Linked DNA regions of Homo sapiens. The main gene of each other region encodes a partner of the protein of the gene in region 2 in a complex. Each region holds a gene or a part of one and is shown on either strand. Other genes may lie near its edges.

Region 1 (7,473 bases), on a different chromosome or scaffold from region 2:
CATAGGTCATCTTAGTTGATCCGTGTAAAACTCTGTGAGGTAGTGACCAACATTTCTCCCACCTTACAGAGGTGGAAACTGAGGGTTAGGAAGTTTCCTTGACTGTCCTCAAAGTGCACAGCTTGTGAATGGAGGAGCCAGGATGGGCGCCCGCTGGCTCTCCTATCCCTTCAGTTATGTCAGCGTCCCCCGCAGCAGCCCATTGTCTGGTTAGGTCCCGTCTTCACCATGGTGCCACCTTCATCTGCCTCTTCTTCTGCCTTCCAGCTGCCACATGCAAGAAGTATATGGCCAAGCTGAGGACCACGGTGTCTGCTCAGTCTCGCTTCCTCAGTACCTATGATGGAGCAGAGACGCTCTGCCTGGAGGACATATACACAGAGAATGTCCTGGAGGTCTGGGCAGATGTGGGCATGGCTGGACCCCCGCAGAAGAGCCCAGCCACCCTGGGCCTGGAGGAGCTCTTCAGCACCCCTGGCCACCTCAATGACGATGCGGACACTGTGCTGGTGGTGGGTGAGGCGGGCAGTGGCAAGAGCACGCTCCTGCAGCGGCTGCACTTGCTGTGGGCTGCAGGGCAAGACTTCCAGGAATTTCTCTTTGTCTTCCCATTCAGCTGCCGGCAGCTGCAGTGCATGGCCAAACCACTCTCTGTGCGGACTCTACTCTTTGAGCACTGCTGTTGGCCTGATGTTGGTCAAGAAGACATCTTCCAGTTACTCCTTGACCACCCTGACCGTGTCCTGTTAACCTTTGATGGCTTTGACGAGTTCAAGTTCAGGTTCACGGATCGTGAACGCCACTGCTCCCCGACCGACCCCACCTCTGTCCAGACCCTGCTCTTCAACCTTCTGCAGGGCAACCTGCTGAAGAATGCCCGCAAGGTGGTGACCAGCCGTCCGGCCGCTGTGTCGGCGTTCCTCAGGAAGTACATCCGCACCGAGTTCAACCTCAAGGGCTTCTCTGAACAGGGCATCGAGCTGTACCTGAGGAAGCGCCATCATGAGCCCGGGGTGGCGGACCGCCTCATCCGCCTGCTCCAAGAGACCTCAGCCCTGCACGGTTTGTGCCACCTGCCTGTCTTCTCATGGATGGTGTCCAAATGCCACCAGGAACTGTTGCTGCAGGAGGGGGGGTCCCCAAAGACCACTACAGATATGTACCTGCTGATTCTGCAGCATTTTCTGCTGCATGCCACCCCCCCAGACTCAGCTTCCCAAGGTCTGGGACCCAGTCTTCTTCGGGGCCGCCTCCCCACCCTCCTGCACCTGGGCAGACTGGCTCTGTGGGGCCTGGGCATGTGCTGCTACGTGTTCTCAGCCCAGCAGCTCCAGGCAGCACAGGTCAGCCCTGATGACATTTCTCTTGGCTTCCTGGTGCGTGCCAAAGGTGTCGTGCCAGGGAGTACGGCGCCCCTGGAATTCCTTCACATCACTTTCCAGTGCTTCTTTGCCGCGTTCTACCTGGCACTCAGTGCTGATGTGCCACCAGCTTTGCTCAGACACCTCTTCAATTGTGGCAGGCCAGGCAACTCACCAATGGCCAGGCTCCTGCCCACGATGTGCATCCAGGCCTCGGAGGGAAAGGACAGCAGCGTGGCAGCTTTGCTGCAGAAGGCCGAGCCGCACAACCTTCAGATCACAGCAGCCTTCCTGGCAGGGCTGTTGTCCCGGGAGCACTGGGGCCTGCTGGCTGAGTGCCAGACATCTGAGAAGGCCCTGCTCCGGCGCCAGGCCTGTGCCCGCTGGTGTCTGGCCCGCAGCCTCCGCAAGCACTTCCACTCCATCCCGCCAGCTGCACCGGGTGAGGCCAAGAGCGTGCATGCCATGCCCGGGTTCATCTGGCTCATCCGGAGCCTGTACGAGATGCAGGAGGAGCGGCTGGCTCGGAAGGCTGCACGTGGCCTGAATGTTGGGCACCTCAAGTTGACATTTTGCAGTGTGGGCCCCACTGAGTGTGCTGCCCTGGCCTTTGTGCTGCAGCACCTCCGGCGGCCCGTGGCCCTGCAGCTGGACTACAACTCTGTGGGTGACATTGGCGTGGAGCAGCTGCTGCCTTGCCTTGGTGTCTGCAAGGCTCTGTAGTGAGTGTTACTGGGCATTGCTGTTCAGGTATGGGGGAGCACCATCAAGGCTAAGTGTGGGAGCACCGAGCTGGGCTCTAGAAGTCTGGGCCCAGCTTCGCCTCTGCCACCCTGCTTTGCAACACTGCCCAGATCCCTTCCCTTCTGGGCCTTAATTTCAATATGTGATGATGACAGCCACACTTTATTGACTGGCCTATGTGCTGGGTCTGGTGCTATGCTTTCCGGAATGACCTCATCTAATCTCTACAACCACCCTGGCGGGTAGGCAGGAATGTTATTATCTCCATTATCCTTGACTTGAGGCTCAGAGAAGTGAAGTAACTTGTCCAGGAAATGGCAGAGCTGGGGTTCACAAATTGCATCATTCTGATTACAGGTTTTCTGCCTCCCACCAGTCTATGGATACACTTCAGAGGCTCCCTGAAAACCTTGAGGTCACTTGCAGAAAGTTTTGTGTAGTATGTGTCCGTATCAGGAACAACACCAAATCAGAGGTGACTTGTGCCCCATCAGAGACTTTAACACCCCAACCAGATGGGAATTTCAGGACCCAAGAAATAGAAAGTGGCTGCAGGGTTACAACTACTGTTGGATTCCTGAGGTAGCACAGTGTCCAAACAGGATTTCAGCACTACCCGTATTGCTTAGAGCCCCAGCCAAAGATGTGAGGTTTTGCCCTTTGGAGAATCTGTGCCCCTGAACTCGGGGGCCTCTTTCCACATCTTGGGGGCAGGCAAGGGCAGAGGGTGTGCCTAGGCCTGCGGATCAGCATGCGACAGATTCCCCAACATCCTTCCAGCTTGAAAGGGGATTGCCCTGCTTCTATTTAGAACCTATAGGAAAGCAGAAGTTCTAGATTGAAGTTAAAATTGATTCCCAGCCTCCAGGGGCTTTGGGCTACACCTGGATGACCTTAATTGACCCTAAGCATGGGACAAACCACTTCCTGAGAGTATTAGGATGGTATACATCTTCTCTGGGGGCAAAGCAACAAGATTTATTTTTCATCATGGACCAAACACATGGATACCCACTAGAAACTGTGTAGTGAATTTTGTTAACCCTGACATAGGGACCATGGTCTTTAGGTTAAAGCATAATAACAACATAATACATAACATATATAGCGAATATATATATGTATTATATGCAATGAATGTAAATATGATTATACCCATCATGGTCTTGGAGGAAACAGATGACACACTTAAAATGGGTGTTTTGAGGAGAGTTTGAAAAACAGATTGTTTACAAGCCATGGGCAGGAGTTAGGAAGAGTGAGAGGGTTGGTGCAGGGGCCTGGGGTTAGTAACAGCTGGGGGAGGGTAGACTTGAAGGGGGAAGGGGAGGGAGACTAATTAGCTGGGGGGAAGGTATGGAGACGGCTGCCTGAGCTTCTGCAAAGTGGAAGAATACCGCTTGGCCCTAACTCCTCACCCCAACTCTTGCTCCTGGCCAGCGCCTTCCACCAGCTGGACCCATCAGGGAGGCCGAGTGGGCTGTCTGCTGGAGTAGTCCCCAGGCATCAGCCTCCCAGGAGCCAGGGACGGGTAGAGAAGGGGGAGAGTGGATCTGGCCAGGCAAATGGAAAACAGCCAGCACCAAACTCTATTTCCCTAGGAGGGAGGATCATGATACTTTGAGTGGGAATTTGGAAACCTGTCTGTTGGAGCAATTTCCCTGATAGAAATAAGAATGTGCATTTTCCTGGGTAGTAGACTCAGTTTTTACCCCAAGAGGCCAGGCATCACTGGCCTGTGTGATCCTCATAGGCCAGTCCATCTCTGGAATTCTTGAATGGATCATCCATCCTTGATTAGGGATGTCCCCGTGATTACCAGGGTGTGCAGAAGGGCTCTGGGAAACCTGTGGGTCTGTCTCTGTGTTCAGAGAAAGGTGAGGGTGGCCTGGTTCTAGCTCATGGTGCTCAGACTGTGGTGTGTAAAGGCACTCGTGGCAATGCAGATTCCTGGGCCTGCCTCTAGTGATTCCCATTCAGTAGGTTTGGGGTGGGGCCCAGGAAATCTATATTTTTCACAGACACCCCTGGTGATTCTGATACAAGTGGTCTCGCCCTGGGAGAACTACTGGTCTGCAGCAACCAGCTTGGTTTTCCATTAGCAATTACTGTCCTTGAGCGAGTTTTACTGCTCTTCACCTTACACACACTAAAACTGCCAAGGCCGTAGGGGAGGGGAAGCAACCATGAGGTTGCTGTGAGTGCACTGTGTGTGTGTGTGTGTGTGTGTGTGTGTGTGTGTGTGTGTATGAGAGAGAGAGAGAGATTGAGAAAGAGAGGAAGGGAGGAAGGGGGAGGGCACAGGCTCCTCTCCCACAGTGCCAACCTGCCTCTCTCCCACTTGAAGTGTTTCCATGCCAACTGAAATCCTCAGCCTCTAGGAAACCCTATATACACAGTGCCCCTATATAGGTTTCTTTAGACTCTGGCTCTCTCAGACTCTAGAGTGATGGCTTTAAAAGTTTTTTGAATGTTACCCACAATGATTGAGAAAGAGAGAGAGAGAGCACGCACCACCATGTAAACATGGAACCTAAGTTTCACAAAATGACTTCGCTTTATGAACTCTGAGACACTCTGCTCTCTTCTGTTCTGTTCTATTTCCATTTTAGAAATGCTGCTCAGGACCTTCAAAATGATTTGCATGACCTGCAACCTGCAGTCTGAAAAATCACTGCACTACAGAAGTGGCCATAAGAGGCCCTGAGGGAGAAGCTGCACAATGTCATGGTTAAGAGTGGGGTTTGGAGCCAAGCCGCCTAGGCTCAAAGCCTTTATGTGCCGTACAACCTTGGCAAAGTCACTTCGCTTGTCTGTGCCTCAGTTTCTTTCTCACGAATGCTCATAATAATGGTTCCCATTTCACTGGCTTGTTGTGAGGATGAAATAGTGTTATTATTGAGAAGTGGTAAGGGTAGTGATCAGTGCTAGCGATCATGATTCTAGGTGACTTTTACTGTGTACCGGGTGCTCACAAGGCTTTATGTGCACAGCCTGGTGAGGCTGATAATACTATTGTTCCCTCTTTTTTTTTTTTTGAGACGGAGTCTCGTTCTGTTGCCCAGGCAGGGGGTACAGTGGCACAATCTCGGCTCATGCAAGCTCTGCCTCCCGGGTTCACGCCATTCTCCTGCCTCAGCCTCCCAAGTAGCTGGGACTACAGGCGCCTGCCACCACGCCCGGCTAATTTTTTTGTATTTTTGGTAGCGACAGGGTTTCACTGTGTTAACCAGGATGGTCTCGATCTCCTGACCTCGTGATCCGCCCGCCTCGGCCTCCCAAAGTGCTGGGATTACAGGCGTGAGCCACCGTGCCCGGCCTGTTCCCTCTTTTATAGATGAAGAGACCAGCAAATAACTAGTAAGTCGCTGATCAGGATCACAATATCCAGCTGAGGCACTCCAGAGCCTGAGCTGTTAACCATTCAGTCAGGGCCTCCCAAGTTTGCCTAAAGATAAAGAATCATGTGCACAGTTGTTAAAATATACAGATTCCTGGGCCCCACCCCGCAGATACTTGATTGCCAGCTCCAGGGTATGGGCCTGAGAATCTGTCTTTTAGGGAAGCTTTCAGATGATGTTGTGATCAGGTGAGTTTTGGGAATGGTGCCCCAAGAGGAGTGGCAGACAGGGCTTGCTCGGCAGGGACTAGCCTGTTGGAGTGGTGCCATTGGGGTTAAGGACTGGGCAGCAGGGCCTCACTAACCACAGCCTATATGCCTGTTTCTGAAGTTTTGGCCACTCTCATCCAGCTGGTCTACTGTCTGCTGACCTAGATGATGGTAAATTGTCCCCAGGGGTAGCCTGTCTAGTTCAGGCTGCACCTTTCGCATATATCAGCTCCTTTCCACCATCATCCCCTTTGTGAGGCTGCTGTGATTATCATGTTCCTTTTGCAGAGATGGAAACATTGCCTCAAATTAGCTCTGTCATTTCCTAAGGATTCCAGGGTTCTTTAGTAGGGGGTCTGGATCCTACGTCCTGGGCCATCCCCATCATAGTGCACCACGTCACCTCCCTGGCCAGGGACCGTGGGGTCTCCACTTTTTTGGGGTGCTCCATCTATGCAGGGTTTCCTGGAAGCACAGATGCTGGCACTTCAGGGATGAATGAAAGTCTTTTTGGGGGATTTGTAGATTTTTTTCTTGTCTTACTAGCTCCATTTTCAAATGTATTTATTTTGTCTCTTTAGTTTGCGCGATAACAATATCTCAGACCGAGGCATCTGCAAGCTCATTGAATGTGCTCTTCACTGCGAGCAATTGCAGAAGTTAGCGTAAGTCAGCCTGGGCTGTGGACAATGGGCTCCAAGTGCCCTGGTCTCACCCCAGGTCGTGCAGCCTGGGAAGCTGTGAGTGATGGGCTGGGGCAGGGGCTGTTTGCATGATGGGGGGTGCAGGTGATTCCTGCCCAGAGGGGAAGGGCAACCCTGGGATTTGGTGCTCACTGTCCAATGTGCTTTGCTTCTGTGTCTCCTCTCTTCTGGAACTGAACAGTCTATTCAACAACAAATTGACTGACGGCTGTGCACACTCCATGGCTAAGCTCCTTGCATGCAGGCAGAACTTCTTGGCATTGAGGTGAGCCCAGGTTTTCCTTATTCCCTGGAAACTATTTTTTGCCCCATTCCTGAGTCAGTCTGATCTGGTCTTGGCCTGGCACTGCCCACACTGGCTCCTGACCTCCTGATTGAATGCAGGGACAGTGTCTCATTTTAAGCAGGGGTTCTCTAATGCTGTGATCTCCCCAGTAAACTCTGGACTAGCTCTGCTGAGGACTTCCTGTCTTTTGACCTTTAGCCCGTAGGGCAAGAAAGCTTTTCTAGGCCCCTTTCCTTTTCTGTGTCTAAGAGTGTCACAGCTTTCTGGGTTTACTGAGTTCCACGATGCATGTTGAGCTCGTCCTGGTGGGGGAGGCATACACAGTTACTTGCCACCCCAGCTGTGGCAGCGAGTTGCTGCAACACTCCCAGGAGGTCCTTTCACCACTCAGAGCATGCAAGGTTTGCAGTCCATCTGGTTCTGCATTTCTGCTACTCCAGTGTCTCCCAGTTTCAACAGGAGTCTCTCTCTCTCCTACCTGATGCCTTTAAATTGCCCCTCTAGCTGGCCGCTGGGTTGGCCTGGCTTCTCTCTCCTTCTCTCTCTCTCAGATATTCTTGCCTCCTGTGATTTGTGAGGCAGTAAAAAAAGACAAAGTAAAGAATTGCTTCCATCTATTCTTTTACCTCTTGGGCTGGGTTTGTGGATGGGAGCCGCCATTTTAAAATGGCGGGCCACATAGCTCAGTCTCGGCAAGGGCTACTGAGATCAGAACCACAGGTGCCAATTTGTACAAAGGACTCAGTCCTGCTACCACTGCCTGATCCC
Region 2 (7,695 bases):
TGGCTCATGCCTGTAATCCCAGCACTTTGGAAGGCCAAGGCGGTTGGATCAGCTGAGGTCAGGAGTTCAAGACCAGCCTGGCCAACATGGTGAAACCCCGTCTCTAATAAAAATACAAAAATTAGCCGAGCATGATGGCGTGCCTGTAGTCCTGGCTACTCAGGAGGGTGAGGCAGGAGAATCGCTTGAACCTAGGAGGCAGAGGTTGCAGTGAACCGAGATCAAACCACTGCATTCCAGCCTGGGCGACAGAGCAAGACTCTGTCTCAAAAAAAAAAAAAAAAAAAAAAGTCAAGAATAAAAAGTTTAAATACAATCCAATTTTTTAGCTATTGACCCAAATAATATGAAATCTTGAAAGCTAGTTTAGTTGCAGGAATATCTTCCCCCTGATATTGTTAACTTTCTTATGTTTTCTATAATCACGGAAAGGCAAAATTTACTTCCGAATTTTCAAAATAAGCATTTGTAATTCCATCAGAAACAACCCTACACCTGTTACTACCTAGGTTTTTATGGAGAATGTATTGGGAATACAGAAAAGGTATAAGCAAAGAGCCTGGCCTTTAGATCCTTTAGTCACTCTGGCTAGTGGCTAGGGATGACTAGTAAGATGACAGTCCTTAAGCGGATGACCATTGGACACATAAACATAGGACAACCACCTTCCATGCAATGTGGATAGAGTAACATGGTGTGTTGGAGAGATGCTCATTATTGGGGTGGGGGTGCTGGAGAAGGCTTCACGGGGCCCCTGACACATCAACGGCATTTGACATGAAAAGAAAGGGGCAAGGAGGTGGGGGTGGGGATTCAGTCACAGGGAACAAAATTAACAAAAGCAGTGGGGTCTGAAAGGAAGAGGAACGGCCGGGCAGTCAGGCCTCAGGAGGAAATGGATGGGGTAGGCGGTGGGGTGCAGGTAGCACGTCAGTTCTGGGGCTTTTGACAATATAGACAGGAGAATTTGAAAGGATGCAGCTTGCAAAACGCACACACTGTTGTCTCTTGTCATTGCCATCCACACGGCCTTTGAAAGTAGAGACAATACCTCAGAGATAAGCTCCCAGGGACGACCATCATTCATTCATTCCACAGATACTGACTGAGTGCCCACGGCGTGCCTGGCTCTGCGGCATACCTGGGTACCTGCCGGTGACGGACGCAGCCCCCGCCCTGGGACCTGCAGCCCCCGGCGCCCAGGCGTCTCCCAGCAGCGGCTCACCTGGCTCCTTGGCGGGGGCGGGAGTGCGGGCGCTGGGATCCCACACGGCTCTCGCCTGGCTGGCGGCGCTGCGGACGCGGATACCGGCGGCGGTTCCCGAGCCGTTGTGGCCTAGCCCGCGGGCGTTCCGGGCGGGCTGAGGAGATGAGAGTGGGGGAGGGGACGAGGAAGAGGAGCATGAGCAGCTGGGCTAGGGAGCCAGGAAAGTGGTACCTGGGTCGCCCTCCTCATACCTGAGTCGTGGGATCCCCTTGGTATTTGGTAAACCTGTATACCAAGGCTCCTTCTCTCTCCGAGGTTTTGCTATTCTTGATCGAGGGCCTATTTGGTGCCAGGCCTCGTGTCCTGAACATACAGCAGTGCACATGTGTCACATGTGTACTGCACAGACGGTAATTCACTAACGTCTCCGGAAGACTTAAGCCTTCCTCAGGTCAGAAGAGGTAAAAAGAAATGGAGGCTAGGAGGGTCACCCAGGTCTCCAACCATAGGCTGTCTGCCCCACAAACCCGGCTCTCCCCACTGAATGACACCCTCCTGCCCAGATCTGCTCTGGATGCAGACATGCCATCTGCACTCACTCCCTTTACCCTCCTCCCACCCTATCCCTGTCCCTAGCACTGTCTCTCACTCCACCTTGTATTCCTGCTTGGCCCAGTTACAGTTTTACACTTGTTTGTTTGATGACTGTGTTAATGTCTACCTTATAATGCACTTTATGTATTCCTTTTTGTAAATCATCTTACCCCTATGAGGGCAAGGACTTTTATCCCTTTCATTAACTGTTTTATTATCAGTGCCTACAGCAGTGTGGTGGACATAGGAAGTATTCAATTAATTTTTGTTGAATGATTGCCCTCCCATTGATTGTAAGCTCCACACCGGCAGCAACTGTAGTTTTTAATCACTTTTAAACTGCAAGTGTTTGACACCTAGTAGGCATTTAATACACATTGGTTGAATGAGTGTATGAATATACTGCTTACTTTATCTTTACCCTTTCATTCACCCTCACCTCATCATCCCAATTTGTAGGATAAAAATGTGCATTTCTGAGGATTCCTACTTCCAAGCTTCCTCCTCACCCTTTGTAACCATTCCCTCATTCCCTTGATCCCCCCAACCCCATCCCTCATGTCTTCACAATCATGTTTTTGCTCTTACTTCCCCTTCACCCTCCATTACTTCTTAGAAAGCTTCCTATCCTCCCTAGTTTGGAACATTCTCAAGCAACATGTTTTTGTAGATAAGAGAATTCCAGCCTAAGCTACATTGGATCCAAAACAGCTTTCCATGAATCACCCATGACTATCTGTTTTTTGGTTTTATATTGCTTTCCTTGAAGAGGACTGAGGATACTGTACCACTTGAAATCATGGTCACTGTTCATAATTTTTTCAACAAATATTTATGACACATGTTTTATGTTCTAGACATTGTGCTAGATGTTGGGACAAGATATGCAAAGTCTGAGCCCTCCAAGGTGTGTATGACACAAAATAGAATAATCACGGGAAATGTTGAGAAATGTCCTGGCTTGGATCTAGTTATTTCTAATACAAGAAACTAAGAGAATGAGACAGGATCTGATTCTTCTGCTCATTGTAACAAGCTTTAGCATAGGCATAGGTTGATAATGGATGTAGGCATGGGGTTAGAATGCCTTGCCCATTCACATTTATCTTGTTTGGTTTTTACAAATGACTCTGTTAGTCGGGAATGCAGGGCAGGAATTCTCTCGTAGAAGCTGGAACTGAGGTTCAGGAAAGGTCAGTTGACTTGCCTAAATTCGATGAGACTCCTGCCCTATTCTCCTTACTCGAAGAGGCCTGAGTTAAATGCTTAAAATCCTCTTCACTGATGGCTCTTCAGGATAGGAGTCAGTTTCAAATCTTCAGTGTAACGGTTTTTTAAATGCTTCTCAAAGGGAGATATCAGAGACTTTCCTGAATCAGAATCACCTAAGATGTATTATAAAAATGCATGCTCTTGATCAAGACCTCCTCTGACCTACCCAATTAGACTCCCTGTGAGTTCTGGGAACTTGCATCTTAAACTCCCAGGGTGATTTTTCTGCATGTAAGTTTAACTGGGAGAGTTTTAATGTAAAGCTTCGGTTTGTTTTTGTTTTTGTTTTTGTTTTTGAGACGGAGTCTCCCTCTGACGCCAGGCTGGAGTGCAGTGGCGCGATTTTAGCTCACTGCAACCTCCGCCTCCTGGATTCATGCAATTCTCCTGCCTCAGCCTCCCGAGAAGCTGGGACTACAGGGTCGTGCCACCACGCCCAGCTAATTTTTGTATTTTTTTTAGTAGAGACGAGGTTTCACCATGTTGGCCAGGATGGTCTCTATCGCTTGACCTCGTGATCCACCCGCCTCGGCCTCCCAAAGTGCTGGGATAACAGGTGTGAGCCACTGAGCCCAGCCCCTGGAAAGCCTCAGCTTTGATGCAGGGTTAACATTTGCCTTTGGGACATATTTCGTCAGCATCTCAAAGAGTAACCCATATGTCCTTGAGCAGATGGGAATGCAACAGCCTTCTGGCCGGAACCTGTCTCTTTCTTTCTTTCTTTCTTTTGAGACGGAGTTTCGCTCTTGTTGCCCAGGCTGGAGTGTAATGGCACGATCTCGGCTCACCGCAACTCCGCCTCCCGGGTTCAAGCGATTCTCCTGCCTCAGCCTCCCGAATAGCTAAGACTCCAGGTGCGCGCCACTACGCCCGGTTAATTTTGCATTTTTAGTAGAGACGGGGTTTCTCCATGTTGGTCAGGCTGGTCTCGAACTCCCGACCTCAGGTGATCCGCCCGCCTCGGCCTCCCAAAGTGCTGGGATTACAGGCGTGAGCCACCACGCCCGGCCACTTGTCTCTTTTTTATGCAAGTGTTTTTTGGAATTTGGGGGTTCAGGTGAGCAGGTGCTCTGCTGCTGGTAACTACTCGCAGTTAAAGATCTTTTGACTCTTTCCCCGACACGCTATTTGTCAGTGTCGTTTTCCACCACAGAGCCAGGTATTTGCCCCGCCGGCCACGGTGAGGCGCGCGAGGCGTGTGCTGCCAGCTTCTCTCTTCCTTCCCCGGTCCGCCTTCGCGCCCTTAAGGAGACAGTCCCTGGGAGTTTCTGCCTTTGGTCTCCAGTTATTGTTCTCTTCTCGCGAGAACTGCTCCTCCCATCCTCTTCTCTCACGAAGCCCCGCCCGCGGAGAGGTTCCATATTGGGTAAAATCTCGGCTCTCGGAGAGTCCCGGGAGCTGTTCTCGCGAGAGTACTGCGGGAGGCTCCCGTTTGCTGGCTCTTGGAACCGCGACCACTGGAGCCTTAGCGGGCGCAGCAGCTGGAACGGGAGTACTGCGACGCAGCCCGGAGTCGGCCTTGTAGGGGCGAAGGTGCAGGGAGATCGCGGCGGGCGCAGTCTTGAGCGCCGGAGCGCGTCCCTGCCCTTAGCGGGGCTTGCCCCAGTCGCAGGGGCACATCCAGCCGCTGCGGCTGACAGCAGCCGCGCGCGCGGGAGTCTGCGGGGTCGCGGCAGCCGCACCTGCGCGGGCGACCAGCGCAAGGTCCCCGCCCGGCTGGGCGGGCAGCAAGGGCCGGGGAGAGGGTGCGGGTGCAGGCGGGGGCCCCACAGGGCCACCTTCTTGCCCGGCGGCTGCCGCTGGAAAATGTCTCAGGAGAGGCCCACGTTCTACCGGCAGGAGCTGAACAAGACAATCTGGGAGGTGCCCGAGCGTTACCAGAACCTGTCTCCAGTGGGCTCTGGCGCCTATGGCTCTGTGTGGTGAGTGTCGCTGGGCCTGGGGCCGCTGTGGGCAGGGTGGCCCCTCGCGCCCGAGGGCCAGGCCTGCTCCACTGCTCAGCGTTGCGTCAAGTGGCAGGAATTTTCCTCGGGGGAGGGCATTGCTGCCCCTTCGAGCTCTGCCCGTTCTGCACCTCCAGCACCCCTCGCCCTGCACTCACGCAGGTATGCGGTCCACCGTGTGCAGCACTCAGGTCCGCTGCGAGAGGTAGGTGGTGGTGCTGGAGCTCGGTTCTGGCTAGCACCCTGCGCCTTCCCCTCTCGGAGGGTTGCTGCTCGGCAACAGGCACCGGGGGAAGGGCCGCTTCCTTGGGGGTCTCCCTGCCTACCTGGAGCAGAAGGACCCTCTCCCGTGATGCGCCCACGCTGGGGCTCCGGACCCTGGGTCCTCTGAGCAGACAAGCTCGGGGAACTGCCGGGAGAAGCAGAAGGGCACAGCCCAACCCGAAGACTGCGGTCATCTGAACAAAACTGACCAGGAAGGGAGCTCTCTCCGGGCCTTTTTTTTTTTTTTTTTTTTTCAAAACTCTGTCGAAATCCCATCTTGAAAAGCGTTCTTTTTGAATTCGCACTTGAATTAACAGCGATCCATAGAGCTTAAAATACCGACTTTATCTCGGTGAGCACTGTGCCAGCTTGAGTGGTGTGTTTCCGATTCGGTTGAAAGCGTATTTCCTTTCCGTGGAGGGGCGGCGGTGGTAGTGCCTGCAAGAACACTGCAGCTTGAGAAACTGGCAGGCTCACTGATTAGTCACATACCACTGCTCATTTAAGTATTGTTCGACAAAACAATTTTCTCATTTGGAGCAAGAAAGATTCAGATCTGTAAGGCGCCCTCAAGATCAAAAAGTTATTAACAGTGCTGGGAGGTATTGTAAATATTTTTTGAGATAATTCCTGCGAATACTGTGTTTTAAAAGTCCCTTAGAGAGCTTGCAGGGAGTTATCTAGTTATCTGCATTTATGGCCTGAGGTACACGATGGTTTTCGTAAGGATATGGAACCACATAGAAAAGGAAGGGAAGAGATACTTTTTAGCTTTAATTTACACCGTGAGTGTGTTTTAAATTAAGTCGATAGCATATAATTTCCAGACCTGAAATATTTCACTAACTGCTCTCTTAACTTCCAAGGTTTTATACCCTGTATTTTAGATTTTCTATAATTTGAAAGCTACGGATCTTAAACTAAGTATCAGATTTAACTGTTAGCTTTTTCTGTGTTTTAGTAATTCGTATTGTATGCGTCATTTGAAAACGGGCCTGTAAAATCGTTTTTTTGTTTTGGAACAAATTCCAGGCTTTTGGATGTGTTAATCTTTAAATATGATTTCTGTGTTTCCCAAAGTCACATCATGAATTTCCTGTTTGGTAGAATCTTCTGGGTAATTGAGATTGTGCAATTGTGTCCAGCAACAGATCATATTGCATTTTCTAGTTCAAGTTGCTTAAGTTATGTTGCAGATAGCACCGTGCTTGACATCTTTCTCCCATTTTTACAGCATGGCAGTTTACATTTTAAAGGAATTTGCAGCATTTTACATTCAGAGAGTGTGTGTGTGTAGTTGGTTTGCAGCATTTTACATTCAGTATATACATATTATATAGGTATATACATTCAGTATATACATATTATATAGGTATATACATTCAGTATATACATATTATATATATCTAGTTGATTTGCTAATTTTCAAAGACGTATTTGGATCATTGCTCTTTTAATATTTTATAGCTCATTAATATACTTCCATTTTTTCATTCTTGAATTGACATACATTTCTGTAGTATCACGTTTTCGTTTTCAATGCTATTTAAATTTTAATGGAGTGATACAGCAGAATAACTCAACTATAGAGGGTTTGGGTGAACTCCAATTGAATTGCTTGCAAGGGTTCGCTACTATTGGTGACTAGCTCTGCACTGGAACAGGAGATTCAGATTTACAGTGAAGTACCATTAAAATTAACTCCACAGTTCTTTAGTGGTATACTTTTCTGTGGTATAGAAGCCAGCAGTATCTGACACTTAAAAGTACTTTTATTTTATTGAACAGATTTTTTAAAATACATTGACATTGTATAAAATTTGAAAGTTTTACAAAGGTACTCAGTGGGCCGGGTGCAGTGGCTCACGCCTGTAATCCCAGCACTTTGGGAGGCCGAGGCGGGTGGATCACAGCGTCAGGAGATCGAGACCATCCTGGCTAACACGGTGAAACCCCGTCTCTACTAAAAATACAAAAAATTAGCCGCCCGTGGTGGCGGGCGCCTGTACTCCCAGCTACTCAGGAGGCTGAGGCAGGAGGATGATTTGAACCCGGGAGGCGGAGGTTGCAATGAGCTGAGATCGCTCCACTGCACTCCAGCCTGGGCGAAAGTGCGAGACGCCGTCTCAAAAAAAAAAAAAAAAAAGATATTCAGTGAAAAGTCTCCTTTCCTTTTTGTTCTCCAGCCACTCTACTCTCTCAAAGACAGGCACTGTTAAGTGTCTTGTGTCTTTCCAGAGAGGCAGTTTTTTTTATTTGCTTGTTTGTTTAGTAGTCTTTCTACTAAAGGGATTTAAGATGTAACCTACAGCATATTGGTGAAAGAAAATACAACTGAAACTGAAATTGTATGACAATTGACAATAAACAAATTATAACTAATGTTGGAATGAAAATACCAGAATTTAGATTTAC
Region 3 (7,473 bases), on a different chromosome or scaffold from region 2:
TTTGCAGCCTTAAACCTGAAGTGAAAGGGGGATGGCAGGAGAGTACAGCTTATTTCTGAGGCTGTTTTTATCATAATTAAAATAGGATCAAAGCTACAGGCTTCCTCACTAATCCTTTGTTTTAATATAGTGGGAAAACATAACCATGGTTTCTTCATGTGTATGTGCAGCTTTGCTGGATAGTGTGATGTCATGGAAAGCAGAGCGATTGTTGAAGCCACTAAACCAGCCACGGCTTTACTCAAGGAAAGCACTTCTGGGTCTTCTCATATTGCTATGGATTTCTCTTAATTGTTGGGAAGTTTTCCAACTGATGCTTCAAACTTTAGCAAGAATTAATGACCTAATGATAGGATTGAGTGATAGCAAATGTTATATCGGAAAAGAAGATTGTGGGAGGCCATGACTAGCTGTTTACAAATATACAAAAGGATGTCTTATGAAAAGCAAAACTTCAAACATTAGCATGTTGTGAGTGATCACATGAGAACCAACAAGGCTTTCATGATAATCTGATATTATGCCCCTATTTGCTAATTGTGTATGGCACAACCGGCCTCAAAGAAACATACTATAGTAGAGCAGACTGTGTTATGGTACTACACCATCCTAACTTTTGTTTTTCAGCCACCATTTGTAATGGAGAAGTGGATTGTAGGAATAGCAAAAAGTCAGACTGTGGAGTGCACTGTCACATATGAGGTAAGCTCTGGGGGCAAGAGGCTGGTGGCCTCACCATCAGTTAATGAATATAAATTTATCTGTTATCTCAGAGCATATAATTTATTGGGAGATATACCCAGAGCATATAATTTATTGGGAGTAAACCAACCAACATGAACATAGGAAGATCAATATAATTTCTCTCACAACGTGTTGGGAAGAAAAGAGAACAGGATAAACTTACCCAGATAGCGACTGAGGTAGTACTTCAGTCATTCATTAGTTATGGATTGAACACCTTCTGTATACCATGTAAGATGTTTGGTATTGGGGATACTAATAGTTAATACTAATTTTTTTTAAATCAACAAGATCTTCATGGCTGGTAGGACATACACCTTACAAGGTACGTAGACCCGGTGGGAGTGGGTGGAAGGCAACAGTTATAGTACAGTCTTGGCACACCTGGAAATATTAGTGTGCACCCACCATCAAAGGGACATGCATTTCATTCATTCATCAATTCATTCATTCAAGAAACATTTATTAAGGATCTACCATGAACCAGGCACTATTAGAGGTGCTTACACCAGTTTGATCACACTAACTTCATGTAAATCAATACTGAAAAATATCGTCCAGGCGCAGTGGCTCACACCTGTAATCTCAGTACTTTGGGAGGCTGAGGTGGGCAGATCACTTGAGCCCAAGAGTTTGAGACCAGCCTGGGCAGCATTATGAAACCCTATCTCTACAAAAAATACAAAAAGTAGCCAGGTGTGGTGGCACATGACTATGGTCCCAGCTACTCGGGAGGTTGAAGTCGGGGGATTGCTTGAGCCCAGGAGGTTGAGGCTGCAGTGAGCCGAGATCACACCACTGCACTCCAGCCTGGGTGAGACAGTGAGACCCCTGTCTCCAGAAAAAAAAAAAAATACTGAAAGATATTATTATCCTCATTTTGCAGATAGGAAGAATAGGCTCAGAGAGATGAAAGGAAGTCTTGAGGTGTGAGGTCCTCACTGACAGAATTGTTGAAGTCAATTCCATGTTTTCTGACTATAAAAAACACTTTCTGCGCTTCCCTGGCTACCCTGTTAGCTCCCAGTGGCTGCAGTAAGATGAAGTCCACCTCAAAGAGGACTCTGTGAGTGTGGCATTTTGATGGTTTCCTGGGCTGCCAGGATTTGGCTTTTCAATATTAGAAATACAAACCCTGGGCCAGGCACGGTGGCTCAAGCCTGTAACCCCAGCACTTTGGGAGGCCAAGGCGGGTGGATCACCTGAGGTCAGGAGTTCGAGACTAGCCTGGCCAACATGGTAAAACGTCATCTCTACTAATAATACAAAAATTAGCTGGGCATGGTGGTGCATGCCTGTAATCCCAGCTACTCAGGAGGCTGAGGCAGGAGAATCGCTTGAACCCTGGATGCAGAAGTTGTGGTGAGCTGAGATTGCGCCATTGCACTCCAGCCCAGGAGACAAGAGCAAAACTGTCTCAAAAAAGAAAAAAAAAAAGAAAAGCAAAGCAATACAAACTCTGGCCAGTCCACTTATCCAGGCTGGAAGCCAAAAAGTTTTACAGCAGTTATTTATCCTCACCTGCTGGGGTGCACAGGTTGTCAGGGATGAGGCATCTGAGAAGTTATATTACTTGTCAAAGCATTGCTTGCAAGGTGCAAAACCCAAACAAAAGAGGCTGGTTGGTCTTGAGGAACTTGGAAACTAGACTACTCTACAGCCTGTTAACTGGTCCTCACTACCCAGGAAAAGCCCTCTTGTTAGTAATCGGACAATTAGAACAACCAGATTCTACCTCTGCCTGCCTTAGACAGTTTTGGAGACAGCACACCCAGTTCTCTTTTTCTTCTTCTCTCTCCCTCCTCCTCCTTTTTCAGACCCCATGATGATATGCCACTTTTGTCTGGGTTTTTCACTTCAGAGTTTTTTAAAACAGATTTCCCTAACCATATTGAATCCTGGAGACTCTTTAATTGACACTGATTGGTGACAGCTAGTGAGGAGGGAGATTTCAGAACAAGAAAGTAATGTGTCTTGACCTAGTGTCCTCTCCTTTTCCTGGTCCCCATTTCTTACTTCTTGATCCTGTCTCACTTTTGCATCTGAGACCCTTTCCCCTCCGTGCAGGTAATTCACCCCACCACCTTCACTCAGTTTCCTTGATGATCCAAATTCAGTCTTAGGCAAACATGGTGGTCAGATTTTCATTTATTCAACAAAATAGCTGTCATCAAGTACTATAAATAGAAGATGTAATTTTTTATTTCTTATTAAACAAAGAGGTAAGTTGAGATTTGTCAAATATAATAAATTCTGGGAAAAGACAACCATATTTTTTAGCTACTATAGTTTACTAAGAAATTTATGTTATAATCCATTAAGGAATAAGTGCTATAACCCACTAAGAAATAAAGTGGTTAAAATTTTTCTTTTCATTGAATTAGCATATTTGGGCCAACTGTTCAGAATATTTTCCTAGTGCATTATGATAGTGTTCTAAGAGGTGAAACTGAAGTGATATAATAACCTGGATGACTTTCTTTCCCATTTTATATATGTGTGTCTATTTGGTCATATGTTTCTATTTGTCTTTTTTTTGTCTTTTTCGTTTGTTTGTTTTACCAGAGTGATGTTAGAACTCCAAAAAGCACTAAACATGTCCATTCGATTCAGTGGAGTAGAACAAAACCTCAGGATGAAGTGAAAGCAGTCCAACTTGCCATTCAGACATTATTCACCAATTCAGATGGCAACCCTGGAAGCAGGTCCGACTCAAGTAAGTTAGTGTTCCCGTATTAGATGTGTGCTAGATTCCAGAAACTTAATTATGACATTTCCAGATGATCTAAAGACTCAGAGGATACCACCTCAATCAGTTAAGATCTATCTTTGAGCTTCGAGTAGCAGAAAACCCAGTTGCAACTGGCTTACTCCAATAATTCCCCAAGTGTGGCCCCAGGACCAGGAGCATCGGGATCACCTGTGAACTTGCTAGAAATCCAGATGCTCAGGCCCAAACCCAGACTTACTGAATCAGAACTCTGGGGATAGGAGCTGCAGTCTGCATTTTAAGGAGCCTTCCCAGTGATTAAGAACAACTCTAAAGTCCTTAAGCCACTGATTTAAACTGTAATAAAATTTATTATCTTCCATAACAAGAAGCCCAGAGGTAGGGCAGGCTCCAGGTGCAGTAAGATAAGCTGGCTCAACCATATTCAGAGAGTGGAATGAACCTTCCCTTCTTTCTGCCCTGCCATGCTCAATAGGCTGCCTTTGCCCTCGGCTCCTCTCCTGTTTACAGTCATCACACAAAGATATCACAACGCCCAGAGGAAATAACGGGTTAGGTCCCTACCTGTTCTTATATATAGGAGTAAGGAAAACTTTTCTAGAAACCCCCAACAGACTACCCGTCAGCAATTCTGCTTTGGCCAGAATGGAGCAACCTGTCCGTTCCTAAACATAGCATGAGCACATCTGACTTAAACTAATTAAAGTCGATCCCTGGAGCCAGAATGCAGTCAACTCTCCCGATCACGTGGCTACATGGAGGGGGATGGAGACTGAGCAAAATCAGGGTTCTATTGGAAGGCAAAATTCCAGAGAAGTCAAGGCGAGGAAAGAAGGCATTGTGATTCTGTATGCTACTGCTCATGTGACGTATGTAAAGTAGTCAAAGTCACAGAAACAGGAAGTAGAAGACAGTTAACAAGTGGCGGTCAGGGGGCAGGGGAGAAGGGAGGGGAAATGGAGAAAGAGGAAGGTAGAGATTAGTGGGTATAGAGTTTCAGTGTTGCAAGATGAAACAGTTACAGAGATCCGCGCAACAATGTGAATATACTAACACTACTGAACTAGAGGCTTAAAAATGGCTAAGATGGAAAATGTGGTTTTTACCACAATAAAATACACACATACACACAACAACAACAACAGAAGAAGGCATTGTGATGGACTGAAGCCTGGGAGGAGTCTCTGGAATTGTCTGGACAAGTCACTCACTTCAGAGCTCGGGGTCACCTGTGCCCAGGCAGTGAGGAGACAGAGACATGTGCATGCTCTGATACTCTCCACGCGCACTATCTGCGTGAGCAGGGGGTGGAGTAGCTGAGGAAGCTGAGGCTGGGAGGACCACCCAGGAACTCTAGAACATGGGTAACGTTGTTCAGGCTCGGGGGAAAACAGAAAAGATCTCAGGTGTGAGGAACTTGCTTATTCACTGAAATATAGCTTACTAAATGGTTCTTGTTAATTCACCATTTTCTTTTATCTTAACTTCTTCCTATCTGCCAATGCAGCTTCATTTTTTTATGCTGAAAATACTTCTTATTCCCGAGCCTCAGGATCTCTCCTGTGGACACGTGAACGGTCTTTCTTCCAAACAATCTCTAGCTGTCTCAACCTTCGGAACCTCATTTCTCTTATCTGCATTTAGGGTCCTTGAGGTTTTAAAAATGCAGGTGGCAAAACAAACCTTTTGTTTACTAAACATGCCCCTGCCACCTGAACATACTTTCTAGAAGTAACAACACAACTATGTAGGAAGAAGATGGGATTTAGATGCAGAAGGACTTGGTATTATTGACTGAGTGATCTTGGGCAAGTCATTTGACCTCTCAAGCTTCCTCATTTATAGAATAAAACTATTAGTGTTTACCTAAGAAGATTACTGAGAGGATTAAATGAGATAGTGTAAGTAAAGCCCATGGAACAATGCCAAGCACATAGCATATATTGAATAAGTGTAAATGTCCTTATTTTTTAAAGTATTTGTAATAAAAGAAACGTCCTTATACATAGCCTAGAATTTCTATGAATGGTAAAGCTTAGAGCATCCCAAACAGCCCTGAATTATCCTAAGACAGGCGTATGAATTAGACATGCAGCTTTAGTGTGGCTTAAAAGATGCTCATTTCCATTTCTCCCGCAGGTGCTGATTGCCAGTGGTTAGATACTCTGAGGATGCGGCAGATTGCATCCAACACTTCTTTACAGCGTTCCCAGAGCAATCCTATTCTGGGGTCACCGTTCTTCTCACACTTTGATGGCCAGGATTCCTACGCTGCTGCTGTGAGACGGCCCCAGGTGCCCATTAAGTATCAACAGATTACACCTGTGAACCAGTCCAGAAGCTCGTCTCCTACTCAGTATGGACTGACCAAAAACTTCTCTTCCCTACATCTCAACTCTAGGGACAGTGGCTTTTCCAGTGGCAATACTGACACCTCTTCAGAGAGGGGTCGATACTCAGACAGAAGCAGGAACAAATATGGACGTGGTAGTATATCACTCAATTCTTCTCCTAGAGGAAGATACAGTGGAAAGAGTCAGCATTCCACTCCTTCAAGAGGAAGATACCCTGGAAAGTTCTACAGGGTTTCTCAGTCAGCACTCAATCCTCACCAGTCGCCTGACTTCAAGAGAAGCCCCAGGGACCTCCACCAACCCAACACCATACCAGGGATGCCTTTGCACCCTGAGACTGACTCAAGAGCCAGTGAAGAGGACAGCAAAGTCAGCGAAGGGGGCTGGACAAAAGTGGAATACCGGAAAAAGCCCCACAGGCCATCTCCCGCCAAAACCAATAAAGAGAGAGCCAGAGGGGACCACCGTGGATGGAGAAACTTTTGATGAATTGAACTACATAGCTTTTCTAAGCAGGTTAAAAAAAAAAAAAAAAAGAAATGTAATGGTTTTTGATAATATGATCCCTTCAGATTGAATTAACGAAAAGACAACACTTCCAGTTTTTGGATTGGGAAATACCTTCTAATTGAGACTATAGCCAAACCAGGGCCAAAATTATGGATATTGGTCACCCAGTGATCATAACTAGGCTTGAAAATCACTACACATATTTTCTGCCTTGAGTGAACATTTTTAGAGGAAAGGTTATGCCATCTTTTTACCCTAACCACTGATATTCTGGTTAGCAGGGCCAGGACAAGGGGAAGGAAAATGAGGTCAACAAAAAAATCAAATTTTTAGGAAAAGATAAGATGAATGTTACTGATTTTTCCTTTTGGCTGAGGCTGCAATATGGCCTGGCAAGGCACTGTTACTGATCTTGTCTTTAACATTTTGATATTTTGTTCATCATAATTTTTGCATTTATTTTTTTAAATATTGCATTAAAATATCATTTAGCTTGATTATCGAGTTTTTTGGTTTGAGGTTTTTTGTTGCTTCTTTTTTCTTTTCTTTCTTTCCCCCTCTTTTTTTTGGATGTCCCCTTAAATTTTGTGCCCAAGGCAGGTACCTCACTCATCTCATCCTTGGCTCAGCCCTGCTGGTTAGTATTTAGTATTTATTTTAGTAAGATATTTGTGTCTGTATGATGGTCAGAGTTGAACTGATCTGGCTTGTCATTTTTCAGTAATAAAAAAAGTTACTGAATTTAATGTTGAATATGATGCATATCTCATTCATTACGATTTATCAGAAACCAAAGATTTAAATTGCCTAGATTTGTGGTTCTTTCTCTTCCTAAGTTCCCAGCGACTGCTTTCAAATACTATTTTCTAAATTTCACCAAAGGAGCAAAGAGGATAAAACAACACTCCATAAAGGCCTCTTGGGATGTCAGAAATCTAAAATCTAAAAGAAAACAGACACAGAGCAAGACAATAACATCACAAGCTAAAAGCCAGAGAAATTTAAAATTACCAACATCCTTGTTGGAGTAAGACAGTAAATATCAGCCTTGCAGCAAGACAGCTCTGAGCAGCTGTGGGCAAAGAGGTAAACCAGTGGGGGTGCAAGGAGACTGTCTGCAGCTTAGGGCAGAAA
Region 4 (7,473 bases), on a different chromosome or scaffold from region 2:
CATGGAGAATGGACTGTATCACTTTTTAATTGCTCCTGCCTTGGCAAACAGTGTCCTCTAATCTTGTTATATTTGGGTCATGCTCAGTGGTGGTATATAAAGCAGGTTTTGTTTTCAGAGATCTTTTTTGTTGGAATATGGCTGTATGTGATAATCTGATTAAGCAGATATGCCACTAATGTCTGCCACACAATAAGGCATGTTAGTGACTATGTCAATGTAGGCTTGAAAGCTACATTGATAGAGAAGTTGTCTCCCCGCTATTTGACTTCTTGAGTCGTTTCTTTGAACTGTCGAGAGTATTTTACAAGTGCTTTTCTGTTTGAGGTCATTTCACTCAGAGTATAGCAACTTAGTAAAATATGTAAAACATGTAGTATAGCATATGCCATTCTTATTTTAAGCTGCTTTTGGGGAGCCACTCTTGGGTATGGAAGTTGTAATAGTAGTTTTTGGAGTACACTTTATTATTATTACCGTCAGCCAGTACATGATTTTCCATTGCCTTATACGTTTTCCACTGTAGCATTAAAAAAAAAATTTTTTTTTTATTATTACACTGTAAGTTCTGGGATGCATGTGTAGAACGTGCAGGTTTATTACATAGGTATACACGTGCCGTGGAGGTTTGCTGCACCCATCAACCCATCATCTACGTTAGGTATTTCTGCTAATGCTCTCCCTCCCCTAGCCCCCAACCACCTGACCGACCCCGGTGTGTGATGTTCCCCTTCCTGTGTCCATGTGTTCTTATTGTTCAACTCCCACTTATGAGTGAAAACATGTGGTGTTTGGTTTTCTGTTCCTGTGTTAGTTTGCTGAGAACGATGGTTTCTAGCTTCATCCATTTCTCTACAAAGGACATGAACTCATCCTTTTTTATGGCTGCTACTGTAGCATATTTTTAGCTTTAAAATTCCAATTAGTCTCAGGTGAATTGTTAATGACAGACAGGTGTGACTTAGTAGAAAAAACTGGAGAGACAGTTGAAGTAATCTTTCTCATATTTTTCAGTGGCTAGATAGCATGTCTGTAATTTCTTAACTCTTTAGTTTCTTCTATTTCAAAACATGATAATGATCTCAAATATAACCTTCCTCCCAAAATCTCAGGGATACTTTACCAATCTATTGTTTGCTTTGGTGGGATTATAATAACTGTGATATAGGTTGGGAGGCCAAGGTGGGTGGATCACCTGAGGTCAGGAGTTCGAGATCAGCCTGGCCAATGTGGCAAAACCCCTGTCTCTACTAAAAATACAAAAAAATTAGCTGGGCGTGGTGGGACGCGCCTGTAATCACAGCTACTCAGGAGGCTGAGGCAGGAGAATCGATGAACCTGGGAGTTAGAGGTTGCATTGAGCCAAGATCGCACCACCGCACTCCAGCCTTGGCGACAGAGCGGGACTCTGTCTCAAAAATAAATAAATAAATAAATAAATAAATATGATATGATATGGGATATTCAAAGGTGTTAATGTTGTAAGGAAAGGAAAAATAACATTTCATATAAGGAGGAAAGGGTTGATGGAAAGCATAATCTATTATTGTGCCTGATCTTTGAGCTGCTAGGCACCTTATCAGAATGCTGTTTGAGGAGTGTTTTCATTATGTTTAAAGCTTTCAGAGAAAGTAGGATTTTCTGATACAAGTAGAAAAATAGAAAAAAGTAGATATGTTTTTCTACTTTTAAGAAGGGAAGGCTTACTAGGAATTATTTTTAAATGAATGAAAGAGTAGAAGGAGGAAGAATAGGCAGTATCCGTGTGTGATTTCTCTGTGTCAAACACCATAGATGTAGTTTTTTATGCACATTTTCTCTAATTCTCAAAACAGTGCTTAGATTATAATATCTGTGTTTGCATATTATGAAATTAAGGCTCAGAAAAGTTAAGAAATTTGTCTAGCATCATATAGTTAGGAGATAAAATTTTGTACCCAGAAATCTCTAACTCTGTATACCACACTGTGTATCAAACTAATGAGAAAGAATAGTGACACCAACGGTTAGGACTTCAGACATTTACATTTGTGCTGAATGTAGAAGAGGGTGCTTAACACTTGAAATGCGTGCTCAAGTACAATAGTTAATAATATGAGATTGTGTGGGGTATGATTGTGTGCCTCATCCCTGTTTATTGTATGCCCCAAGATTCTTTCATCTGCTGCAAAAAAGCACAGTGCAGATTATGTGTGGTATCACAGCAGGCATTACGGGCATGGGTATGCCTTCTGGATGCAAGGGTGGAATTGGAGGTGCTGTAGCCTTTAGAGGAGAAACCCACTTGCCTTGTTCAAATCAGTTGGCGTATAATGGTGGAAAGTTGTTATATTTGTTTATAATGATATGAGTTGAGCAAACTTGCTTGTTTTTTAAATTTTACGAATTTTAACTTTAAGTTCTTGGAACCAAGTGCTTTATTCCAAATAGGATATGATAATTATATTGACAAGTGTTGAACAATATGTCATTGTAACAGTTTTTCTTTGTGTAATTGACTTCAATAATCTTGAGGGTGTTTTCTGCACCTATTGTTAGAAAAGTTGGAGTGCCCTTGTAAGGGTTGGAGTGAGTGGTTCTTCTCTTGCCATTATAATTGACTGTAGTTAGCATATGGTCTAATTTATTTTAAGAGCACCTCTTAATAAGCCTTGATTTTGTTGAAAATCAGGCTAAAACCATCTTCCTTGCACTTCCTCATTACTTGGTTGTTAGCATAATATTAACTATTATTAGATCCCACATATCTCTTTATCTTGATCTAAAGAACATTGTTAGGGCTAGGAGTCCTGCAGTTTTCATTTAACCCATTTGTGATCTCTTGTGAGGAGGATGGAGCTATTGGTTATATGCCTGAATCATTTGGGAGGTATATATACTAATTTTTGCTGTTGAACCTCAAAGAACAATCAGGTTAGAAATACGAAGTAAGACTTAGAACGTTAAGCCTATGCCTGGGAGGCAGAATGTATATATATTAACCAGAGATGCTTGCATGTAGGGAGAATGCTGGAGAACCAGACTCCTGGAGCAGTTTATCCTATGAAATACCGTATGGAGACTGTTCTGTGAGGCATCATCGAGAGTTGGACATCTATACATTAACCTCTGAGTCTGATTCACATCATGAACACCCATTTCCTGGAGACGGTTGCACTGGACCAATTTTTAAACTTATGAACATCCAACAGCAACTAATGGTAAGTCAGAAAGCTTTTATTTTTAAGTATATGCATGTGTATGTGTGTGTTTTGTATGTGTGTGTCCCCGCCCTCCTCCAATGAACCTTGATATAATTAGAACATAAAAATGCTTTCCTGGTGGGAGGCTGAGACGGGCGGATCACGAGGTCAGGAGATGGAGACCATCCTGGCTAACACGGTGAAACCCTGTCTCTACTAAAAATACAAAAAATTGGCCGGCCTGGTGGCGGGCGCCTGTAGTCCCAGCTACTCGGAAGGCTGAGGCAGGAGAATGGCGTGAACCCAGGAGGCGGAGCTTGCAGTGAGCCGAGATCACGCCATTGCACTCTAGCCTGGGCAACAGAGCGAGACTCCGTCTCAAAAAAAAAAAAACTTTCCTGGCCAGGCACAGTGGCTCATGCCTGTAATCCCAGCACTTTGGAAGGGCCAACACAGGTGGATCACTTGAGCTCAGGAGTTTGAGACCAGCCTGGGCAACATGGAGAAACTCTGGCTCTACAGAAGTTAGCTGGGCATGGTGGCGTACGCCTATAGTCCCAGCTACTTGGGGGTCTGAGGCAGGCAGATCATGTGAGCCTGGGAGGCAGAGGTTGCAGTGAGCTGAGATGACACCACTGCACTCCTGCCGGGGTGACAGAGCAAGACCTTGTCTCAAAAACAGAAAAAGAAGGACTTTCCCCAAAGATTCTGAGACCTGTAAAGCAGTATTAGCAGTATTAAATGTTACCACTTACAGATCAGAGCTAGCATTAAGGTTGTAGCCGTAGGGGGACTGAGAGGTTTTTTTCATTGGTTTTGGGAATAATGGAAGACACACATTTCAGGTACAGAAATATGCAACAACTAGAACTAAATTTCTGGCATAAAAGGATATTTGTCTGTGTTTGGCTTAACTTTACAAAATGAAAGAACCAACAGTTTCTGAGATTGTTGCCAAAGAACAAGAACCAAATTTAATCAGGAGTATTTTTACAACTATTTTAGTGGCGATGATATGTACCATTTAAATATAGTGTTACTATATTTAAATCAATAGTTGTATGGTACAAAGATAGCTAAAAAAAACAGAAAAGATTTTATAATCCACTCAAGTCTTCAAGATAAAGTTGTTGCCAGACATAAAAACATTACAGACTCCCTGTTAGCATTTATTACGAATAACATAAACGTCATATGTGTACATCTCTCTTGGGCATAACATCTGAAAGGCTGTGTTTAGGTAATTTTTCCACCCAGTTTATTTCAGAGCTGATTTGATTTGGAAACCACTGGACAGTAATTTCATTTAAGGTCAGCTCAATGCCAGAGGCTTCTTTGGGAGCATGCATTATTTGAGACCAGCAAGCCAAGAAATTCCATAGGGTTATGTGATGCTCCCACTTTTGTGTTTTAGAATTGTGTTTGTTCCAGAGCACGTGACATTTCATTTTCCTCTGAATGGACTTCTAGGCAATCAGGTTTTTCCTTAGAGCTCTTTTTACTAGGTGAATGGTAGTTCACTTGAAAATATAGTTTTGCAGGTACCAAAGCTACCTGCCAAGATATGGAAATGGTTGGCAGGCAAATACGAGAAATTAAAACTGTGGGAACATACATGTGCTACTTTCTTTAGGCAACACTACTTGTTTCGCCAGATTTCTGTTTTATAATGTTTACCATTTATTAAATTTAATGACTTCATTTCCTGATTTTTAGGAGACTGTCGTACTCTCAGCAGGACTGGAAATAAGCTAATTTTGAATACTCTTAAGGAGCCTAACACAGAAGCTTTTAGTGAAAGTCCATTTTGCTTGTACACTCTACTAGAAAGACTTTAACAAGCATGACACATTTTACACTTGTACATATAAACTTTTACAATAGGCTCAGTAGGTAGATAGGAATGGTCTGATGATGGAACCCTGTAAGTGCCCAATATATTCACTGAGTGAGTAGGTGAATGAGAGGATGGATGGCAGTAGGTATGCATATTATTGCAGTAGATCAGGTAATGAATGAATGGCGAGCAAACCAGATGTTTGGAAAAATAGATTTTAGGTGTTGAGAAAATATTTTTATAAGAATTTTTGAAATTTTGATATAAAGGTAAAATCACTAAAGATCACCTGTATTTGTTTTTCTCCATTTTAAACCTTGCTGCATGCACATGGGATTTTTGCATATTTATAAACTTAGATTAATAATTTTTTTCTAATTGCAATATGGTCCTCATAGTTAATAATGGCTAGTATTTCTTCCATCAGTTTTATGAACCTTGATTTTCTTAATCATTCCCATGCTGTTGGTTATATCTGTTTATATTTTTTAAATACTTTAAAGTTGCAAAATCCATTTTTGAGATTACATATAGTATCCATAATATACTCTGACAGTATATAGGTATATGTTCTCATTTATTTTATATTTAATATGTTCTGATTTTATCAAAAGGTGAAAGAATATCTGCCATGCCACTGTTCCTGAAATTATGACCCCATAACTCGATGGTTAAGTTAGATTGGTTGGAACATATTTTGGGGATTAAAGGACACTGAACTCAGTAAGTATTTAGGGCACAGGCACATTGGCTGCACCTTGTAATGGAAAAGAGCTAGGATTTGTTTTTACTTGTATATATGAGGCAGGGTGTAAGTAGACTCTGCCCTTCTGAAGACAATGAAAAATATAGGTGGGACACAGTGGTGTAGGCCCTATAATCCCAGCACTTTGGGAGACCAAGGTAGGAGGATCCCATAGGCTCAGGTGTTGGAGAACAGCCTGGGCAACATAGTGAGACCCCGTCTCTACAAAAAATAAAACAATTAGTCAGGTGCAATGGTGCACACCTGTAGTCCTAGCTACTGAAGAGGCTGAGGCGGCAGGGTCACTTGAGCCCAGGAGTTCAAGGCTGCGGTGAGCTGTGATCACACCACTGCACTTCAGCCTGGCCTCAGAATGAGAGAGCCCACCTTAATGTTAGCAGCTCAATTGAAGATATTCACTGAGCTTTTTAAAAATCAGGTTTTTGAGACTCTTTTATTTTTATTTTTTTTAAGACGGAGTTTTGCTCTTATTGCCCAGGCTGGAGTGCAGTGGTGCTGTCTCGGCTCACTGCAACCTCCGCCTCCCGGGTACAAGCAATTCTCCTGCCTCAGCCTCCCAAGTAGCTGAGATTACAGGCATGCACCACTACGCCCAGCTAATTTTGTATTTTTAGTAGAGACAGGGTTTCTCCATGTTGAGGCTGGTCTCGAACTCCTGACCTCAGGTGATCTGCCTGCCTCAGCCTCCCAAAGTGCTGGGATTACAGGCATGAGCCACCATGCCCGGCGAGACTCAGTTTTCATCTACTTCCTAAAATAAGTTCAAAATTTAGAAAATAGATATTTCATATATCCTAATCTATTTTGAACATCCCAGTATATAGGCAGATATGAAAGGAAAGTAATATCAGAAATAAGAGGAAATTTATTTGTATTCTTTTAGATTCGCTTATCATGTGACCTTAGAAGAGCTAGAATAGAAGTGAGTTCTGTCCAACAGAATTTTTGCTCAGAGGTGTCAGTGACATCTTCTCCTACAGGCAGTTTTTTAAAAGTGTATTTCATTTCCTCCTAGAAAACAAACCTCAAGCAGATGGACAGTCTTATGCCCTTAATGATGACAGCACAGGATCCTTCCAGTGCCCCAGAGACAGATGGCCAGTTTCTTCCCTGTGCACCGGAGCCCACGGACCCTCAGCGACTTTCTTCTTCTGAAGAGACTGAGAGCACTCAGTGCTGCCCAGGGAGCCCTGTTGCACAGACTGAAAGTCCCTGTGATTTGTCAAGCATAGTTGAGGAGGAGAATACAGACCGTTCCTGTAGGAAGAAAAATAAAGGCGTGGAAAGAAAAGGGGAAGAGGTGGAGCCAGCACCTATTGTGGACTCTGGAACTGTATCTGATCAAGACAGCTGCCTTCAGAGCTTGCCTGATTGTGGAGTAAAGGGCACGGAAGGCCTTTCGTCCTGTGGAAACAGAAATGAAGAAACTGGAACAAAATCTTCTGGAATGCCCACAGACCAGGAGTCCCTGAGCAGTGGAGATGCTGTGCTTCAGAGAGACTTGGTCATGGAGCCAGGCACAGCCCAGTATTCCTCTGGAGGTGAACTGGGAGGCATTTCAACAACAAATGTCAGTACCCCAGACACTGCAGGGGAAATGGAACATGGGCTCATGAACCCAGATGCCACTGTTTGGAAGAATGTGCTTCAGGGAGGGGAAAGTACAAAGGAAAGATTTGAGAACTCTA

Evidence for each region.
Region 1: MAPK14 (region 2) and NOD2 share a complex: the UniProt entries of both Homo sapiens proteins name them as parts of the signaling complex.
Region 3: MAPK14 (region 2) and MAP3K20 share a complex: the UniProt entries of both Homo sapiens proteins name them as parts of the signaling complex.
Region 4: MAPK14 (region 2) and AKAP13 share a complex: the UniProt entries of both Homo sapiens proteins name them as parts of the signaling complex.

What each region holds. Positions count from the first base shown.
Region 1 is NC_000016.10:50,710,291-50,717,763, forward strand, and holds part of NOD2 (nucleotide-binding oligomerization domain-containing protein 2), read left to right. Parts: intron 1-267; coding exon 268-2,083; coding exon of another isoform or gene 2,084-2,084; exon of another isoform or gene 2,085-2,347; intron 2,348-2,462; coding exon of another isoform or gene 2,463-2,463; exon of another isoform or gene 2,464-3,299; intron 3,300-4,717; coding exon of another isoform or gene 4,718-4,718; exon of another isoform or gene 4,719-5,191; intron 5,192-5,318; exon of another isoform or gene 5,319-5,465; intron 5,466-6,296; coding exon 6,297-6,380; intron 6,381-6,600; coding exon 6,601-6,684; intron 6,685-7,473. UniProt on the Homo sapiens protein: Pattern recognition receptor (PRR) that detects bacterial peptidoglycan fragments and other danger signals and plays an important role in gastrointestinal immunity.
Region 2 is NC_000006.12:36,023,279-36,030,973, forward strand, and holds the start of MAPK14 (mitogen-activated protein kinase 14), read left to right. Parts: upstream 1-4,529; 5' UTR 4,530-4,879; coding exon 4,880-4,995; coding exon of another isoform or gene 4,996-5,221; intron 5,222-5,535; exon of another isoform or gene 5,536-5,632; intron 5,633-5,809; exon of another isoform or gene 5,810-5,882; intron 5,883-7,695. UniProt on the Homo sapiens protein: Serine/threonine kinase which acts as an essential component of the MAP kinase signal transduction pathway.
Region 3 is NC_000002.12:173,260,436-173,267,908, forward strand, and holds part of MAP3K20 (mitogen-activated protein kinase kinase kinase 20), read left to right. Parts: intron 1-627; coding exon 628-702; intron 703-3,309; coding exon 3,310-3,460; intron 3,461-5,614; coding exon 5,615-6,315; 3' UTR 6,316-7,473. UniProt on the Homo sapiens protein: Stress-activated component of a protein kinase signal transduction cascade that promotes programmed cell death in response to various stress, such as ribosomal stress, osmotic shock and ionizing radiation.
Region 4 is NC_000015.10:85,572,130-85,579,602, forward strand, and holds part of AKAP13 (A-kinase anchor protein 13), read left to right. Parts: intron 1-3,001; coding exon 3,002-3,200; intron 3,201-6,800; coding exon 6,801-7,473. UniProt on the Homo sapiens protein: Scaffold protein that plays an important role in assembling signaling complexes downstream of several types of G protein-coupled receptors.